Linked DNA regions of Homo sapiens: region 2 is linked to region 1. Evidence: fine-mapped expression QTL. Tissue or cell type: lung. Region 1 holds a variant in brackets; the other region holds the start of a gene. All regions are shown on one strand. Distances are between the middles of the regions.

The links. PIP is the estimated chance that this variant, and not a neighbour inherited with it, causes the effect.
Region 2: FAM222A starts here. The variant in region 1 is fine-mapped to the expression of FAM222A in lung (TOPMed, PIP above 0.99).

The regions. Positions count from the first base shown.
Region 1 is chr12:109,734,841-109,745,005 of GRCh38, forward strand. FAM222A (family with sequence similarity 222 member A) reads left to right here. Exons shown (of 3, transcript NM_032829.3): 2 at 9,261-9,388. The coding sequence starts at 9,307. It overlaps FAM222A-AS1 (FAM222A antisense RNA 1), which reads right to left. Exons shown (of 3, transcript NR_026662.2): 2 at 751-981. Among named protein-coding and RNA genes, the nearest start is that of FAM222A, 26 kb to the left of the region's middle. RefSeq lists a silencer at 1,831-2,031, enhancers at 1,936-2,435, 2,939-3,083, 4,520-5,021, 5,022-5,521 and a cis regulatory region at 3,005-3,018. The variant G/A (reference allele first, on the strand shown) is at 5,616.
Region 2 is chr12:109,709,243-109,719,407 of GRCh38, forward strand. FAM222A (family with sequence similarity 222 member A) reads left to right here and starts at 4,583. Exons shown (of 3, transcript NM_032829.3): 1 at 4,583-5,655. RefSeq lists an enhancer at 3,045-3,608 and silencers at 4,314-4,643, 4,674-4,723.

The sequences.
Region 1 (10,165 bases):
GACGCCCCTCTACCCTCACTCACAGCAGAGGTGGAAAGCTGGAGACTGACCCACACATGGGTGGTGAGTGGCGTTTGACTCTTGGAGATTTAAATAAAACAAACATTGAGAGAGCTTATGAACTCTGGGATGTGGAGTGGTGGCGCTGTCATTTGGGCCGAGTGTCCTGTCCTGTTTCCTAACCCCTGCCTCGAAGGCTCCATTCATTTCTGCCCCAGCCTGACCCCCAGAAGCATCTACTGATCTTAGCATTGGGCTAAAAGCTAAGGCCAGCCCTTGCCAGCCACTTTTGTCCACTCTCCTCCCCCGACCTGGGCCACTGCGTCTTCTAAACACTCTTGGGTCATTCTTGCACAAGGACCCAGTCTTCTTCCTCCCCGTCCCTTGGGGCCTGAATCCTCAAACCCTGTCTGGCCCAGGCCAACCTCTTCCGTGGGGCTTTCCTGCCTGCTCCACCAACCAACCCCGTGGTCCTGGACAGCTCCCTTCCCTCTCTGTTTCCTCGTGGGTACAACGCCAATCATGTCTTTCTCCCGGTTGTGGCGTGGGTTACGTGAGGTGACGTCTGTAAAGTACTGAGCCTGTGGAGAACACTAAAAATAAAAGCTAGCTCTTATTGCTCTTACTATTAGATTTTTCTCCTTCCCCGTTGCCTGCTTTAACCCTGAACTGTGGGTGCAGGGACTGGGGGAATAGGTGGGAGGAAGGCTAGAGATACCGGGCCCCTCCCATCTCCACTGTGGGTCTTACCTTTGCCCGTTGCACACAGTGTTCCGTCTTCCGGGATCCCAGTGTCATCTGGTGGCATCCCTCCTTCCCTCTTTTGGTCTCCATTTCCATGTTGTTTCTCCAGAGAGATTCTATGACCACTTCCAAAAAAAACTGGGCGGGGGGCTTTCGGCTGAGCTCACAGCCCCATTATGACATCGTAGTACTGAAGCTGTTCAGTATCGATTCTCAGATCTCCCCACTCATTCTTTGCTGGAAGGTGATGACGGAGTCTTACTTGACTGACAATTTTCATTAAAGAGCCGAGGCTGGAACTAGGAGAACAGAGGCTCAGCCTGCCCCTGGCTCCAAACTTTGCACCTTGGGATCCCTGGCTCTCTGGGAAGAGTGAAACTGCCCTTCAGAGGTCCATGGCTCTGGGAGAGGGCCAGCCAGGCCTGTTGCCAGTGGCAGTGACTGCCCCTCCTTCTGGCACCTTCTCTGAGTCCCTGTCCTGAACTAGCACTAGTGCAGAGGAAACAGATCTCCCCGCTCTGAGGTTGGGGGGGTCCCTGCCTGGCCCTGCATAGGTGAGGTGCTCTCAGTGACTCACCAGGAGGGTTTGCTCTCCAGCAGCCTGGAGCTCCTTCATGTTCTCTGTTTGCTCCTCTCTCTCAAGTCTCCATGTGGTGGCCTGTGCAGTCCCTTCTGTGGGATCCTTCCCTTCCCCTAGCTTTTTCCTACTTACCTGTTGATAGCGACCATAAACAATGCTAACAACGGGTACCACTTAGGCAGCTACCACAAGGACCCTGGCACTTTGTTGTAAGGAATTAACCCCTTTTGCAGACGCAGAAACTAAGGCTCAGAGAGGAGGGAGGGATTTGCCTAAGCTCACAGAGTTAGGGTGTAAAGCTCAGACATCCGGATGTGAAGTCGGGGACAGACACTGTCGCTCTGCTAATGAGGCAGCTGGTGTGTCCTTACATCATGACCCCCCCAGGCCAGGTAGGGTGACCCCAACATGGCCACCGCTTGTCTCCCTGCCTTGTAATTACCCCTCTGATGCCTCCCATCCACTCAGGGTCTGTCACTGCCCCAGCATCTAGCACAGGGCCTGGCCTGGCACATAGTTGGTGTTTAATCTGTCATGCCGTCCCCAGTGGTTGGAGTGCTGACGGAGGCACATCGCAGTTGTCAGTTCCCATGGCGACTGACATCACTATGCTCTCAGGCTGTACCCCGCCCCTTTCTCCAGGGCTCTTGCGCCGGGAGCTGGCCGTGGTGCTGACAGGCCCAGGAATGGCCACCTACCCCCAGACCCCAGCTGTGTGTCCCAGTAGGACACTTCCTGAGGCCCACCCTGCCCCAACTCCCTAGGACAGCCTCTTGCCCATCCTTTGTTCAGGAGACGTTTTCCTGAGGGCCCTGTGCTCAGGCACTGCTGTAGCACCGTGAACCCATAGAGGAAGGATCAAGGAGAGCCACATGGGACTCCAGTCATTTGACGATTCATCAAACATTTATTATGTACCTTGTATGTCTTGGAGAAGCCCTCAGGAACCCGGACTCCAATTGAAGGTCGAGTTGAGTTTTAAGGGGTAGAGAGCCAGAAAGGGCTTTTGAGCAGTCCTTCTGCTCAAAAGTCCTTCCTGGCTCTTGGGATTGCATGGGCCAAAGCCTGCAAGTGTGCAGGTGAGAGTCTTGTGCAGAGGGAAGCCCACCTCAGGACTCTGGCTGCCAGCCAGAATTGGTGATTGTCACTTTACTTTTTGGTCTCCCCTTTGGCTCAGAACTGCCAGCATCTCTGGCTCTAGTGCCCAGCCCAGAACCAGGCACAATGGAGGGGTGTTGGAGCCAGGCAGGGGACTGGCATCTTTGTCCTAGAAACCAAAGAGCCAGGTATGCTCTGTGACAAGATTTGCAGCATTTTAGAGAGCCCCTGGCCTGCTGGGGTGGGGACAGATACAGTGGTAATTCTGGCAGAAGATGAGGCCTCCTATTCAAGGGGACAGTACCTCCCCAGCCCCCAACCTTAAAAAAAAAAAAAAAAGGTAAAAATCCCCTTCTGGTGCTGAGGCCCAAATGGCAGTGGGAAATAATCACTTTTCACAGGCCCCTTATCCACAGCCAAGCCCTGTGCCAGTTTAATCAGCAGTGCCGGTGTGACTTGAAGAATCCCCGGCTTGAGAGATCAGGAGAGGGGTTAAAGAAAATTACCCTCGCCTCCTCCATGCTAATGTAATCTCTAACCAGATCTGCCTAGCCGCAGCTCAAATTGCTTTTTAGATTAACATTTAATTATTAACAGGGTCCCTTGGAAGGCCTCCGGCTCAGAACAGAGATGGGGGAGGGAGCGGCAGGAGGGAGGTGGGGATGGGCTTCTACTCTGGCTGCCTTGCTGAGACAAGCGGGGTGGGAGAGAGAGGAAGGAGCAAGGGAAGAGGGGTCAGGAAGGGAGAAAGAGAGAGAGACAGCAGGAAGGAGAAGGGAGGCATCAGGACAGGAGGCAGGTGGAGCTAAGGACAGGGATGTAGACAGAGGAGAGGAAAGAGACAGACAGTGGATCTTCCTGTCGTGGGAGCCCCTAAGGGGGTTGGGGGAAGCTTGCACCTAGATTCCTGAGGACATTCCTGGGCTGGGCAAGGGTCCCTCCACTCTTCCTGGCCAGAAGCAGGTTTGCTGCCCCTCATTATTTAGAGAGGTCTGGACTTTCTGAGGCTTTCTACTTGCTCAGCTCGTGGTGCTGGGGACCAACACAGAGAAGTGACCCATTTAGGGCCACACCACCAGGGTCTGACCCTAGTATTCCCAATCCAGCATTCATTCTCTTCCCCGGGCCCTGGGCCTCTCACCACCATTTCAGGCTCCTATCTGCCTTTGGAGCAGGCTGTGTGGCCAGGCAGCGTGAAGAGACTTGAATTACAGCCAGAGGGATGGAGGTGAGAACTGTGGGAGGGCTCCCTCACCACCCACCTATCCTGCCACCACCCCCAGGAAGGCTGCGAGGCCCTGAGGAGTGGCCAGCATCTCATTCACTTCCTGAAAGGGAATTCAGAGTCTGAACCATCTACTCTACTCCTTGCATGATGAACTGCTGGGTTTTGCCAGCTTCCTATCTTGTCCCTGCTCGAGATTCTAAGTCCCTCAAAGACAATGGCTACGTCTAGAGCCCCTTTGTGTGCCCACAGTTCAGGGACTGCCCCACACCTTGTACACAGCTGGATTAAGTTTGGAAACCAAATGATCACATCCTCTTATGTCCAAGTTAGATGGCCCTCATACTATCAGCTGGTCCACTCCCCATAAAGGTTCATTTGGGAAACAGACTCAGAGAGGTGCTGTGACTTCCTCCAGGTCACCCAGCCAGTGAGAACCCCAGTGCCTGGCCCCTGCCTGGCAGGTACAACCCAGAGGCCTCTGGGGCCAGCTCTCTTCTCTGAACTAGTCCTGTTGGACACCAGGAAGGGCCTGGCATGACCTTCCCCTCCAGGTCACAGCTAGGCTTTGGCCTTGAATGGAGCCACAGAAGCCAGGTGGGTAGCTCTAGGGATTGGAGGTAGAGGAGGAGATGGGGGCTCAGAGGCGCAGCCCATGGCTTTCCCGGGGTCACAATCTCAGGGCCCTGCCGTGAAGCCAGGTGTGTCCTCCTCCTATTCTGCCTTGGGGTCAACCCAGCCTGGCAAGGGGCAGACTGCTGACCTGTGGACACGAGGGAAAGTTCCAGATGCCTGCCACATCAGGAAAATGCTGGAGGCAGAGAGAGGTCAGGAACATTCATTTTTATTGGGAGGTCAGTTCTGGCTAGATGTTCCTTTCTGGCAGGACACTTTGAGTCATTTCCGTCCTCCCAGTACATGGCACAGGGCTGGCCCTCAAAAGATGCTTGGGAAGTGTTTGCTGCCTAAATGAATGAATGGGTGGGTAAGAAGCAAGGCCTGGGCTTTACTCATCTCAGTGTTGTTCTGCCCAATGCTGGCCTCCTGATTTGCGCTCCTTGAATGTTTATGGGATGAATAAGTGGCCTCTGGGAGCCCTTCCCCTCCTCTCACCCCTTCCTTCTGTGATCCCAGCCCCTCCCACAGTAGAATCAAAATGGATTTGGGCCCTGGGGAGAAGCAGACCCTTGCTTCCATCCCTCCCTGCCCAGTTGACTGGGAGCTGAGGGCTGACGGGCCCCCAACCACGATGGAGCTGCTGTACAGTGTGGGGCTGAGGGACTGACTGGCATTGGCATCCTTGGGCTCTGCTATCTAAAAGCTATGTGACCTTGCACAGATGGCCTTCCCTCTTTGTGGCCATTTCCTAAGCTGTGAAATGGAGCCACAGAGGCCACGAGGAGGAGGCGCATGGGCTTGGTACAGAGGGCAGTCAATACATGCTCACCACCGTTAAGAGCCCAAATTGCATGTTGCTCTTTCAGAGCTTCCCCTCCCACTGGCCCGTGGGCTCCCTGACGCCCCCTGCAGCCAGACAGGCGAGGGCGAGATGACAAAAGGCAAGCAGGGCCCAAGCCCCCAAATCCCTGTTCTTTTCATAAAAACAGAGACAGCCTCCTCCCATTCATTGTTCTGCTAAGGCGAGCATCACAGACTCAATTCCTCCTCGGACCTGAAAAGTTCCTTCCTTCCTTTCCCCTCCCCTGTCACATTTCCTTTATCTAAATCCTCAGCTATGAAAGGACACATCGACAGCTGGGGGCGTTATCTGGTGGAGGGGACCTTTTCCTCGGGTGTCTCCGAGATAAGGCGTCTTATCAGCCCCCATGTCAGGGAAGGTGCCAAGCATTCTAATCATTGAGGCATGCGACGTTTTTCCCCTCCCTGCCCCCCCTTTTTTTATTAAAGTCACAAAAGACCTTGAGCTTATAAACAGTCTGATTTGCAGATAGGGTTTCAAAATGAACA[G/A]TGCTCCCTGGATGGTGCTTGGCCAGGGGGGTAATGAGTCCAGGCGGGGACTCTGAGAGGCTGGCCTCCTGCAGATGGGATGATGCCAGGCAGGGAGGGGGCAAGATGGGGTCACAGAAAGAACATGAGTGTTTTAGGCACATGCCCCAGTCCTGTCCCTGCCTTGCTGTGTGACCTTGTTTGGGACGCTTGGCTTCTCTGGGCCTAGATCACTTTATCTGACAATAACCAATTCATTGATTCGGCCATTCATTCAACACCTATCTAGTAAATGATTACTCTTGCCAGGCACTGGGGAGAGACAGACAAATAAGACACGGTCCCTACCCCTAAGAAACACAGTCCAGCGGAGGGAGAGAGATGTGAAAATTGGCAATTACACCTTGGTGTGATTAGAGCAGAGATGGTGGATATCTAGAGGAAGGGAAGGGTGAGCCAGGGTCTGAAGACAGATCTGAGTTCGAACGGATCAGGGTCACGGTGCCGTAGGCAGGAGAACCAGCAGGGGCAGAGGTCTGGAGGTGTGAGGCAGCCTGGCTGGAAGGAGGGCCAGGGGGAGCCAAGAGGGAGATGAGGTGTGGTGGGCAAAGAGGGCTGGGCTCCACGCCGGGGCCAGAGAGGTTTTAAGGCCAAGGAGGGGGATTTGACCGTCTTGGTTGCAGATGATGGGGATGATGCAGGAGTTGGAGGTGGTGGTCCCCTCCCCACTTCCCTCCTAGGACACCCCACCACCCTGCCATGTGCCCCCAGTGGCAGGACACAGGGTTCCTGGGAGAATGGGCAGTGAGTTGGGAGAACTGGGGTTGCAGAGAGAAAAAAGTCCCTCCTCTTTAAGTGAAGAGCATCTCTCAGGCTGCCTGTAGCCCTCCAGAAGCAAGGAATGGGAGGATGTAGGCAGCTGCCCTGGCAAAGCTGAGCCAAAGCTGAGGCCTACACTTGGACACCATCACACCCTGAAAACCCCTCCCAGCTCCCAGAACTGCCTGGCATCCACCATAAGAGCACGCTGACAACTAGAGCCCTGCTGGGAAGGGAGCTGATGGGGTCCCAGGAGGCTCCAGAATAGGCGACCTGCCCCTTCCCCAACAATTGCAGCCCCCAGCCCACCCTTTTTCAACTGCAAAGCATGTGGGATGTATGGCCCAAGGGACATTAGGGCACCTAGAGAAGGGCTGGACTTCTGGACCCCAGTAAAAGGCTGGAGATAGGGCCGGGCATGGCCAGGACTCTGGAAGAAAGTGACCTGGAGGTACCCACAGGGATCATGGAGCCACTGTTACAGGCCAGAGAGGGTCATTAACCCAGCCGGGGTCACACAGGGTGTGCTGGGAGGCAAGGAGGTTCCAGCCTTCCAGCCCAGGTTTCCACAGGGCACCAGCCTCTGACCTCCCTCCTTACTGGCCTGGGTGCAGCCAAGCTCAGTGGTGAGGGGGTAAGTGCACCCAGCCACTCCCTGCCTGGCAGGCCACTGCTCCCTGTGGCTTGGGTTTCCCATTTGTGGAGGGAGAGGTCTTGGACTGGCTTTCTCCGGATCTCCCTCCTTTCCCCCAACCCCTATGTCAGAGCGGCTAGAGATGGACTCTGCCCTGGAGCAGGGGCCACAGAAAGAGGCTGGGGCAGGGTGAGGGAGGTTGCCACAGGCCTCTTACCTTCCAGATTGCACATGATTGTGAGTCTCCATAGACCATCCGACTGTGCGTAAGAGGGTGCCTGTAAGTGCAGAGGAACATGCCATGCAGCAAACACATATGTACATAGGTGAGTGTGTACCAGGGTGTGTGTGCACACCCAGCCCTCCCTGTGCACATGCACGGCGTGTCCTCCAGGGCTGGTGTCCAAGGCTGTGGTGATGGCAGGCCCGAGTCAGGCCTGCTCCCGCCACCTGCTCACATTCCAAGTCCCCGAGGAGAGGAGCAGCACTGCCTTCCTGCAGTCAAGGACTTTCATCCCTGCAATAAGCCCCACTTCATTCCCTTTTTAAACTGTATAATTTCTGCCTGATTGTAATGGCCTATTTTAAAATTACCAGAAATCAAAGCCGGGAAGTGGATACTGCAGCTTTTATTGCGTCTCTGTGTTAAGGCTGGCGATTGGGGAGGGGGCGGTGAGAATCACCTCCCCTCCCCTCCATCCTCCACTCTCTCTCTCTCTCGCTCTTTTTTTTTTTTTCTTGAGACAGTAATAGGAGAAAATTGGTTTTGAAACTGAATAAAAGTCCCTTTCAGAGGAAATCATTTCTTTCAGGGTACCTTTGCTGAAAGTAAAATAGGGCATAATGAAAGGTGGTTACGCGATTGTCTTTCATTTACCGAGAGGCCAGGACAGACGGGAGGCTGCAACCGTCTCCGGGAAATACAAGATTGGAATAATTGCGCCGTAACAAGGAGCTTGTTGTGAAATTAGTATCTTAAGAAAGTAGTGAAAAAAGGCTTTTCCTCATGAATACTTCATTATTAGAAGAAAGCGGCAGAATTTAGGACTCCAGACACCTGTTTAGTATTAAATAACTTCCCTTTCTTCCCCTTCAACACCCCCTCTGCTTTCTTCTTCTTTTTTAAAACCAACATGAAGATTGAGGTGATCCAGCTTGGCTGCTCAGGACTGTGGGAGGTCAGGAAGTGGTGGGGACAGGGTGCCCGGGAAGATGGACATCAGGGGTGTCCGGGGTTGAGCTCACCCTGAGACCTGCCTTCTCCTTAGCAAGAAGGGAGGAAGGGACCTCTAGGTAAGCTCCCACCGCCACCCTCCCATTGGGGCCTCACAGGCAGGCCCACTCTGACCCTGCCAGTCAGGGGCTTTGGGCTCTCAGGAATGTGCCTGGGCCTCCTGAAACGTTCTCTGCAGGAGAGTGGGTTTGGGGAAGCTGAAGGCAAGTGTCTGTGTGAATGTCAGGCTCTGGCCGTTGGGGAAGGTACCACACGGGCCTGTGTGCAGCCACATCTGAGCTGCTGCCCTGCGGGGCACAGATCTCTGCCCTTCCCATTCAGGGTAAGGAGCTCAGGCAGCGACAGGGATCTCGGGTCAGGGCAGCCTTGATGGCCCATTGGGGCTGGGCTCAGGGTGCAGCATGGATCAAGGTTCAAGAGCCCCTTGTTCTCTCAGGAAAGCCATCCTGACATCTCCCCTCCAGGGGGGCTATGAGGATGCCCTGGGCGGGAGACAGACCAGTACTTCAGTAACCTGGGACACCCATGTACCCACTGGCATTTCCCGAGCACCCCTCTGTGTAGATGCCCAAGATGACCAAGTGGGGTCTTCAGGCTGACTTGCTTACAGGGGGCCACCACCGGCCGGAAGCACAGCCTGCTGCGGGGCACGGAGGGAGTGAGGATCTCACCCAGTTGGGGGCATCAGGGCAGGCCCCAGAGCAGATGACCCAGATGCCGAGCAGGGCCGGGGCATGTGTGATCCATCAGTCCAGCCCCCACTCAAGAGCCCTGGATTCTGTCCCTTCCCATGAGGCCACAGATGGGCCTCTTGATGCCTCAGGCCTTGGTCCCCTCATTGGTCGAATAAGGGAAATGGGTGTCTGCTTTGAGAGTCTCTGATGTTCTTCGGGGTTGCAGGGAGACTCCCGGGGGGAATGGTGGGAGGCGAACACGGAGCAGCCCCCAAGTGACAGAGCACCCCATCTTCCTCCTGCAGGGACCCAGTCGCAGAGCGCACCCCACTGGGGACCCCCAGCTCAGCCATGCTGGCCTGTCTGCAGAGGACCCAGAACGCCCCGGGCCAACACCTGGCCTGCCCGAGCAAGAGCCTGGAGCTGCGCAAGTGTGAGTAGGACGCCTCCCCAGCCTTTGCAGGGCAGGTCGTGGGCAGAGAACGCCATTCACCCCCCAGGATGTCCACCTACCATGGCCCTGTCGGAAAGTCTCTATGCTCTCTTAGGCCCCCAGGCCTTGGCCCCGGCTGTGCTGCCTTCCTGGTCTCCATCCCCAAAATGACACCCACTCCTTTGGCCAGCTCCTGTGGAGCAAGACTCTCAACTCTGGCTTGACCTCCTTCCCAGCAGCCTCTTCTGACCACCACCATCGCCATGCCCCAACCCCGCCTCTGCAACTTCACCACCATTATCTAGCCATGTGTGTCTCCCTTACCACCATTAAAGTAGGATGACGTGGAAGCAAAAAATAGACAGAATGGGGTCCCCGCTTGAGGCCCATGAGCTGTGTGGTCTTGGGTGTTTCCTTCCCTCTCTGGCCTTGCTTTTTCACTGGGACCTAGACCTGGTGACCAGGGGTCTGTTCTCACTATCTAGGACCAGGATCTGAAACGCTCTGATTTGGTTATTTTTAGCTATCATAATTTCTTTTTTAATGAAGTACTTAGAAACGGAGATTTGCATTAAAATATGGATTTCTACTATCTCTTGAAAAAAACAAAAACAGAGGCTCTGGTAACATAGGCCTGTGTGCCTGTATTGCAGCTATGGTTAGAGCTGAATGACTGCCTCTTTTAAAGGGATGTCTGTCTCCAGGTCACCGCGGTCCCCACCCCTCCCTATTGCTTCTGTGCTATAGCCCAGGATCCGTTGCCATTTAGCATGATGC
Region 2 (10,165 bases), 26 kb before region 1:
CCTTGAGGTGGGAAATAGTTTGGCACCTTCAAGTAACCAAGAGGAGACTAAAGTGGCCAGAAGGGAGTGAGGGTGGGATATAGTCAGGGAGATGGGCAGGGTTCGGTTCCTGAGGCCACTTGGACTTCTTCAGCCCTACACATAGCTCACCCCCTCCTCCTTGCCCCACTAGGCCTGCCCCAGAGAGAGACTCAGGTACTGGGGGGCGGGGCTGGGTGAATAACAAGGTTACATGTGTTTCTTCTTTCCCCGTTTCTCCAGGAGGAGCATAAAGAGCTCTTTCTTTTCTGCTTATTAATAGCTCTGATTAAATTATCTCTGAAAAACCTACGTGGCGTGCACCAATGGGGGCTGGGCTCCCTCCGGGCTCTGGCCTAGATCACAGCAATGAGGGCAGGTGAGGCAACTGGGGGTGGGGTGGGAGGCTGGAGCAGGCCTGCCCCCTCTGCCTGCATAAATGCCCCGTCTCTGCCTGCTCCCCTCTCCCCAGCCCCAGCTCAGCCTCTCACCCACCTCTGCTTTTGGGGCGTTCACATCTCCCTCACTTGGAACACTAGGCCTTTGCATTGGTTGTTCCCTCTTCCGGGGGCGCTCTTCCCTCACCTCTGCCCTTGGCTACCTCCTACCCATTTTTCCCAGGGTAGCTGACTTGCCTTTTTACCATCACTGGCCCTCCGCTGAGTCAGGTGCCTGCTTCGGACTGTCCCCTCTACTGGTACCCTGGATGACACCTGTTAGTTGCCTTCTCTGTGCCCCATGAAACCTGAGTTCCAAGAGGCCTATGTCTTGGTCTGAGTCACTGCTGAATTCCCAGTGTCAAGCACAGGGCAGGTACTTAGAAAATGTTGAATGAATGAGGGAATTAGCAGACTTAAAGGGGGAATGCTCAGGCTTCAGTGCGTGAGACCAGAGAAGGGCAAGGCAAAGATGGACCAGGTGGCTCACGTCTGTAATCCGAGTACTTTTGGAGGCCGAGGTGGGAGGATCACTTGAGCCCAGGAGTTTGAGACCATCCTGGGCAAAATAGCAAAAGCCCGTCTCTTCAACAAATTTAAAAATTAGTTGGGCATGGGGGCATGCACCTTGTAGTCCTAGCTACTCAGGAAGCTAAAGTGGGAGGATCACTTGAGCCCAGGAGTTCAAGGTTGCAGTGAACTATGATGGTGCCACTGCACTCCAGCCTGGTGACAGAGTGAGACTTTGTCTCTAAAAAACAAAAAAACAAAAAAACAGAGAAGAGCAAGACTAGCCTTACATACGTGGGAGGGTGGGAACAAAAGTTCCAGCCTCCAGGCCCCTTGAGTGATGCCTTGATTAATTGAAATGGCAATTAATCCCATTTCAAAGATGGGGGAAACTGAGGCACAGAGCGGCTGAGTCATATGGCTAGTAGCCCAGTCAGCCTGACTCTACTCCCTTCTCTTAATTCTCCTCCTCTACGTGAAAACAAAACAAAACAAAAACTTGGGCCACATTCATTCAGTGATTCAGAGATTAAGTCAACAGACCTTCATTGAGTGCTGACTCTATGTCAGGCCTGTGCTAGGGAATAAAATGAACTGAATGCAGCCTTTGCCCTGGAAAAGCCCTCAGGCCAGTGGGAAGCCTGACAAAGAAGTGGGCCATTATAACACACACTGGACACATCTGTGAAGGGGGAAGTGCTCCAGCCTGGAGCAGGGTAGTCAGGGAAGGCTTCCTGGAGGAGGCAGCACTTTGGCTGAACTCTGAAGGAGGAGCAAGAGTTAGCTACCTGGAGGGAGGGCATTCTAGGTAGAAGGAACAGCATAAGCAATGACCTGGAGGTGAGAGAGGCACGTGCAAGGATTTGTAGGTATTTCAGCAAGGTTGGTGTGTGGGAGGCAAACAAGAACAGTGAGAGATGAGATGCCCTCTGCCCCCTGCCCCCTCAGGGCCTGTCGGACCCCTGGCCAGAGCCAGTGTTCCGGGGCTGGCCTGCCTGGTGGTTTTATGGACCGTGGCAAATCCATCTTGACACTGTCTCCAATCACATAATGCAGTTATTGGAGTCGACCAAGAGCAAAGGCACGAGGGTCTGATCTCAGGGAGATGGGCATATGGGGTAGGGGGGCACTGGGAGTGTGGGGAGTGGGGCAGAGCATCTTACGGGGCATTCACCTGCCTGGAGGGGAGCGACAGGCATCTGGAAGGCTCTGACCTCTCCTGCTGGACAGCTGCCTTGGAGCCTGCTGCTGTCGGAAATTCCACCATGAGCACATCGTGGACTCATAGAACTTCAGAGATGGAGGGGTCTTTTGAGATCTTCTCGACCTGGGGTTGTCAGCCCTGGCTGTATCAGGAACCACATAGGAGCTTTGGAAACTGCTGTCCCACCAAGGAGAGTCTGATTGGTAGGGCTGGGGTTTGGGTCCTACCCTCCATTTCATGGCAGGGGAAACTGAGGTCCAGAGAAGAGAAGAAACTCCCCTCAAGGTTGCACACGGTCAGACAGTGGCTGCCACAAGGTGCAATAAATCAACGTCAGGGCTCTGGACTTTGGTTCTGTCATTTGTGTGACCTTGGGTAAGTCATGTGGCCTTCCTCTGCTGTAGGATGTGCATAGTGATCGTATATACCTTATAGGGTTTCTGCGAGGGTAAAAGGAGTTATGTGAGATAAATAGCAGTGAGCCCATGCCTGACACACAGTAGGTGTGAAGTCATGGTGACCTACAATGAAAAAAATCCCAAACTTTTGACAGGCTGTGGTGCGAACTGCTGCCTTCTTCTCCTCTTCGCGATCTCTCTCATTTCCCAGGGTTTGCTTGTTACTGTCCCTCGCCCTGTCCTCAGCTGAAGTCTGGTCTCCCCACCTGTCCACACGCTGGGTCCACCCATCCAGTCGCCCCGGCCGCCCTCCCTGACGTCCCCGCAGCCCTGGCTGCTGGCCCGAGCGGGAAGCAGCTGGAGGCATAACACATTTCCAGGTAAATCCCCACCCCCACCTTCAGCCTGGGGAGGGAAGGGGAGGAGATGGGGGCGGCCGCGGAGAAATAGAGCGGAGCTGCTGGGAACAGCGCGCCGAGCAGCCGCTTAGAGGCCTGAAACAGGGCCAGCTCCTGTCCTAGATAAGGCGGCGGGTGACCCACTTGGGCCGGCCCTGGAGGTCCGCCGCGGGCGCCTCTCCCGGCGGGGTGGGTTGGCTCCTGGAAGTAGGCTAGGGCCCGTCTATAATCAGCCCGTCCGCTGGATACGCTCCCCAGGGTCTCCAAAGCCCTCCAGCCCGGGTGAGTACAGAGGGCATTTATTGAGCACTTAATGTGTGTTTTGAGTCCTTTACATGCAAGAATTCATTTTGCCCTCAAATCTACGCTGTAAGGTAGGAATTATGATGCCCCCCATTTCACAGACAAGAAACTGAGGCGCAGACCCGTGAAGGTAAATGGCCAAGACCAACAACCAGCAAGGGCAGGGCTGCAATCCCACCCAGTTTCGGTGGGACTCCAGGTATCACACGGGCATAGCCTGAGGGGTGGGGGGTCTGACTGCTGCTCTGCATTTCTGTGGGGATCTTTGTTATTATCCCGGAAAGCTGGCTTCCTACAGTGCTGTGTGATGGACACACAGCAACTGAGGGAACTGCCCCACCCAGGACTCAATTTCCCCATCTGTAAATGAGACTGCTAGACGGGCCGCCCATGGGCTGTGAGAACCCAGGAAGCTTCTTTAAAAGTAAAAGGGAAAGCACAGTATAGTTTGATAGATTCATATTTGAACCCCAGGTTGATGTGAAACTATGCCTCAGTTTCCCTATCTATTAAGTGGGGGAGTAGGCTAGTGCCTGTCTCCTGTGGGCGTGGGGTACGTCTAGAAGGTGTAGCTTGCAAATTGCTCAGCGCTGTGCTGGGTTATATAGTTAGCGCTCCACAGATCACAACTGTGATGCCAAAAACACATCGCTGCCAAAAATAAGCCTTAGGACAAAAACATCCAGGACCATGTCACTTCACATCTCCTTACCTCAGTTTCCTCTGTAAGTTGGAAGTATAATAATAGTACCTACCGTATCAGTTTTCTCATCTGTAAAATGGGGGTGATAGTAATACCCACTCACACGGTGTTGTGAGGATTAGATAAAATACTTTGCTACATAAGTGTTAGCTATAGTTGTTATTTTTAACAAATTCCTCATGAGGTTGGTTTTTGCCAAGATTAAATGAAATAATGCCGATAATGCACTTATACAGTGCCTTGTCCCAAATATGTGATCAGTAAATGACACTGGTTTTGCCACCCCTAGTGGGACTACAAAAACCAGCACGCCCTGCGCCCCCAGTCGGGGCCCCTCCACCCGGCGCCGGCGCGCAGCATGCCGGGAGTTGCAGTCCTCGCGAGGCAAGTTCCGCCTCGTCCCTGCTTGGGGGAGGAGGTTGGAGAGCCGCCCTGCCGGCCTTTGAATTTTGCCGCGAAAAGCGCGCGTGGCGGCCCCCGGCTCCGCCCCTCGCAGGACGCGGTGCCGCGTCACCCTGGTAACCGCCTCTCAGCCGCCGCTGATTGGGCTGGGCCGCGGGGGGCGGGCGGGGGACGAGACGCGGGGGCTGCTGCCGGCGCTCGCGCCTGTCAGTCGGGCCAGAGCGGAGCAGCGGGCAGGACTGCCTGGCCGGCTGCTCCGCGGAGAGGCTGCGCGCGCCGGCCGGGGGAGGCGGACAGCCGGGCCCGGCGCCTGTGGGGCGCGGCGCGCGGCACCCGGGCCTGAGACCAGGCGAGGCGCCGGCGCGCGCCAGACGGCGCGAGGCTGCGGCCCCGGGAGCCCCCGCGCGCCGCCCGGGGCCATGGGCGCGTGAGAGCCCAGCGCGCGCGGCCCCTGCTGCGGCTTGCGAGCTCGCACACCCGGTGCACAGTCCCCCGGGCCGTCCTCGTGTCCGTCCTGCGCCACTGGGATCGGCTGTTTCTCAGCGCCGAGGCCCCCGAGGCTGCATCCGAGCTTGCGTCGCCCGCTGCCGCCGCCGCCGCCGCTGCCGCCGCCGCTGTTCGCCGGCTTCCCCTCCCCCCACACCCGGGGCTCAGAGCAGGAGGAGGAGGGGCCGGTGCATTCTCGCCGCTGTTCTTTGCAACCTGCAGGGGCCGGTGTATGTCCGGCGAGGAGCCGGGGCCGCTGCGGGTGCGTGCAACCCCCGAAGGAGACAATCCCTCCACCTCGGGGCGAACCCGGGGGCTGCAAGCCGCGGGCGGGCGGGCGAGCGAGAGGAAGCAACAAAGACAGGCTGCAGCTGGGGCTGGCGAAAGGGGCCGCGGCCGCCGGGCTCCCAGCGCGGGCGGAGAGGGCGCCCTGGGAGCGGCGCGGGCCGAGCTGCAGCCTTGAGCGGGGCCCCGAGGGGAGGCGCAGCGCCGCCCGCCGGACGTGGCGATCACGGGCCCCGGCGAAGATGCGTCGCCTGAGCGCCCGCGCGGCCCCCGTCCGGGGCGGGCGTGACCCCTGCTGAACGGAGACCTCCCCTCCCCCCCGACTTCGGACGGCGCAGGCCGGCGCCAGGATAGCCCTCACCGACAGCGCCCCTTCCCACCCGGAGAGAGGCATCGACCCCCAAGGAGGGCTTCGTCAGGCAGCCTCTGCCACTCCTGCATGGCTGCGACCCGTCGAGCGGAGCGTCGTGGTAGCTGAGACCTGGTGCCCTTCGACGGCCTGGCTGATCCGGTGAGTTGTGCGGGGCGGGGTTCTGCGCTGGAGCTGGGGGCACCCCCTGGCGTCCGGGCAGCCAGGATTGGACAGAAGGGGTCCTAGGCTGTTGGGGGTCCTGAAGCAGAGATAACCCTTGTCCGCCCCTTTCCTCCCTCCAAACACAACTTGTTCAGATGGGCCAGCCGATGGGAGTGGAGGTTGGGGGGCCCATTCGGATTCCGCGGGACCCTGGGCGGGTTGGTTGCCAGAGAGGAAAGGTCACCCCACCCGTAAAGCTAACAAAGGTATTGGCTGTGTCATCCGAAAATTCCCCGGGAACTCCAGTGTCTTGGAAGGGCTGGGGGGTGGGGGGCACCCAGGATGGGAAAACGTTGAGGGTCTCCCGAGCAGCCTCTGAGATCTTCAAGGGAAATCACCTCAGAGGGGGATTTGGGGTTCCAGAAACGCAGGTGGCCACGTTTGAGAATTGTGCCCCATGGGGCTAGACCTTAGAGCCCTCGTTCAAACCACGTTCCCACAAATAACTCGCAGGGACGGTAGGTTCCCCAGTGGGGGCACGACATGACGTCAAACCTTAGCCTCTGATGTCACTGGGGTTGCCGTGGCAACACCACTTGCCTTGACCCAAGGCCGGAGGGGGCGGGGTCGTGGTAACAAGGGGCGGGGCTGGATGCCTTTGGGTAGTGGAGGGGTGAAGGCGGACTCCCCCCACCCCTACCATTGCAGTCCTCTGACCTAAATCCTTAGCGCCCCATAAGGTGGGGGAGGGAGGCAGTGCCAGCTGTCCCTGTTGATGCTCCTCCCCGCAAGGACAGGTGTTCAGAGCTTTGCCCATGTAGCCTGGCCTGTGCCTCGGGGCTCAGGCCTCCCAGACAGAGCAACTTTCTGTTTTGAAAAGAGATGCTATAGAAGAGACCTCCCTGAACCCCACCATGTACCCAGCTGGCAGGCTGAAGTTCCCAGGGTCCCCAGAGAGATGTGGGCCTCCGGCCCTCCAATAGGCTACTTCTGCTGGGGAAAATGTGGGTGCCCCTCCCCCAGCCAAGGAAGGTGCAGAGGAGCTGCTGCCTGCTGCACCCCTAGTCCAGGGGCTCCCCATGCTGTTCTACCCCAAGGTCAGGGGCCTTGGCCAACCTGGAACTCCTGATTGCCCCCTGCTCCTTCTGGTGTTTAAGAGGATTTCAACGAGCATATTGTGAGGCTGCTTAAGTGAATGGCGGGCAAGTGAGGCCCATCAGTGCCAAGGTCTGAATAAACTGTGTCTCTGTCAGGGCACCCCCAACCAACACACACCCCAGTACTGGCACGCTTCCCTGCAAAGGCCCAGAGAACCCCCAGCAAGCATCCTGCTGCTGGCTCTGGGATTCGTCTAGGTCCCTTCCAGCAATTATTGCCAGTGTCGGGTGCTGGTGAAACTGCTGTGATCACATTTCTAGGAAAAGGTTCGAAAACTGTCATTGCCTCAGCAGCGTGGGGCGGGGTAAGAGCAGAGAAAGTGTGTGTTCGGGTCATTAGGAGAAGCCAGGCCCCAGTCTATGCAGCGAGCATTTTCCCTGCTCTTCTACCAAGCTCTCTAGCTAGATTAACAGGTCAATAAATATCGGTGGAGCTGCTTTTGGGGGCTTGGCAGGGAGATGGTATTTCCAGCTGAAATGGTGTCGTTAAACACACAAGCTTCCAAGGACAGAGGAGCAACAGCAGATTGGGGGAGAGCCGGGAGAGGTGGGCAGAAGGGCTGTTTGCGCTGCCTCTCGAAGCTTCCCAGTTTAGAAACAAACTCGGAGTGCGCGCCAGAGATTCACAAACACAGGCAGTTGGAGGCCCTCTGCCGAGTATTTACACTTCCACAGCCAAGGCAGAGGGAAAGGCTGTCAGAATTGGGCAATTCCTTCTGTTCCCTTCCCTCATCTCCCTGGGCTTGGCACTCAGCGTGCCAGACGATGAGCAGGAGGGAGTGCCAGCTTTCTCAGCATCTCCCTATATGCCAGGCGTTTTACATGATCTCAGTTACTCCTTGGAGTGGCTCATACGCTGTGGCCCATTTTATAGCTAATGAAACTGAGGCTTAAACAGAGGAAGTGATGGGCTACAGGTGATCAGCCAGGCAGCTGCAGAGGTTCGGTCCTGAATTGCCCTCCTGGCTCCAGAGTCCTTGTGTCTTACCACCTCCTCCCATGGGGTTTGGGGGACACTCCTACTTATTGGACAGGGGTCCCTGCAGGCATCAGAGGCTATCAGCCATGGAGGGGGAGTCTGGCCCCACCAAGATGCTTTGTCCACACCAAAAGGCAGATTTGAATCCTCTCTTCCTATGACCTACAGGTCAGCGTTGAGTAGATTAACAACTTCCGCCCGGCCTTGTGGTCTGTCTGGTCCCCTCACCCCCAGGACTCCTTTCTCCAGCACTAGGGGAAAGAAGGTGTAGCTTGAAACTCGCTCCTTGTCACCTGCCCTTCTGGGCTTGCTTGGAGGGAGGCGGTGAAGCTGCCCCTGGCCGCCCCAGGGACCTTCTTGGGATGTAGATGGAGCAAGGGCAAACTAGTAGATGAGGTTCCTGACCCAGCCTGAGGGTCAAAAAGCCCTAGAGGAGAGGTGGCACATGAGTCATGAAGAGGACAAATAGGAATGTGCCAGACAGGAGTGAGAAGACTGTTCTGGGTGGCCGGAGTGGCCCTGGAGCAGCCAGTGATGTGTGTGGGCCCTCGTGCCTGATGGGGAAAGGGGCAGCCGTGAGTGGCTGTGTCCTGGAGCCTTAGGTGGATAGGGAAGGTTTAAGCAGGGCAGAGGATCCATTGATCTCCTTTGACAAGGACAGTAACCCTGGACATCTCTTCCCGTAAGCGTGGAAGTGGCCACCTCGGTTCTGGGGGCAGTCTCCTCTCTTAAGGTTGGCCCCACCCCCACTAATCCTTCTCACTTATCTAATTCCTGTAAGCTCGTCCATCCCCTGTCCCTTCTGAGCCTTAGGGCTGCTCTGGACTAAACTGGGACTGGGCTGGACTGCTGAACCCCCTTGATGAGAAACTTGAGGCGCCCTGGTGATGGGCAGTGGCTCCTGATTAGGTGCCAGGCTCTGGCGTGGGTTGGGCCTGGATCGTACTCTCAGCCCGCCGCTTGCAGGCTGTGTGACCTCGGGTGAGTACCTTTGCCTCTCTGAGCCCCAGTTTACTCATCTGTGAGAAGGACCATAGCACTCACTGTGCAGGGTCTGGTGAGGATTCAGGGAGGGCCTAGCACAGCACACAGTATACAGTAAGCACTCAAACGCATGTTGTCATGGCTACTGTTACCTCCTCCTCAGAACGGAGCCTTGAATGACTCAGTCCCTTGGAGCCAAAGGTTGAAGACCCCATTTGCAGGGAGAGGCCCGAACTCTACCAGCTATCTCTGCCAGGGGCTTCTCTGTCCACTGAGGCCCCCACCCACCCACCCACATGGTGAGCACCGGTGGCTCTTTTCTGAGCTTCTGCGGGGGCTGGGACTTGGCCGGGGGTCCCTCCCCAACCTCCCTCCAGCCCCCTCTGCCTTCCCATCCCTCACAAACCGGAGGAAGGCAGCGAAGCAGCTCATATTCATGAACCGTAATTCAATCAGGCGGCGATTCCTCTGGGCTCGGGGCGGGGGTGAGAACGAGGAGGCGCGCACAAAAGGGCCGCTTTATTACCTCCCGCGGGCCGGGAATTGCTGCTCTCTCCCAGCAGCGGCCGGAGCCGCTTTATTGTGTTAACCCATTTGCGTGTCAAGAGCTATTGGGCGCTTTCTCTGCCTGTGCGTTGCGGGCCGCGGGAGGAGGGCTGCGGTGCCGGCCGGTCACCTCCGCGGGCGCCGCCCGCCGCCCTGATTGGTTGCTAAGTGATTTGCATCCAAGGTAATCACTTTTATCTCAGAAGGATGTCGACTATAATTATAAGCTACTGACATCTTTTGAAATCTGCCTAATGACTATTTTAGTCTGCACGGGCTGGGTGTAGGGAGGGAGATTCTGGAAAGGGTGGAGGCTGGGAAGAGGGATGGATTCCTTCCACCTGGACCCCTGATTGCTTAGTTGAGAAATATCTGAGTACCTACTGCATGCATCAAACAAAAGATGGGGTCTCTGTGATGGGGGGCTTGCATCCCTGTGGGCAGAGTTAGTGCCACTTCAGAGATGGGGAAACGGAGACCCTGGGGAAGGGGCGACCTGCCCAGACCACACAGCCAATGTGCAGCCACCATCTGGGTCTCTCTGACCCCAAATTCATGCCCTGACCACTCCAGTGGTCACAGTCAGGAATCATGTAATCATGCCTGGATACAGGTCACCAGACTAGTACCTTCCAGAGTTTACGTCATAACCCTAAGAAATGCACATGCTGGTACCACCCCCATTTTGCTGAGAAGCAGGGGCCCAGAGAAGGTATTATACTTTGCTGCCCGAGGTCACACAGCCAGGGAGTGGCAGAAGTATGAGGTTCATTGGCAGCCAGAGATGGGAAGGCAGAGGCGGGGTTCCAGCTTCCCACTCCTCTTCCCACCCACTCGTGGT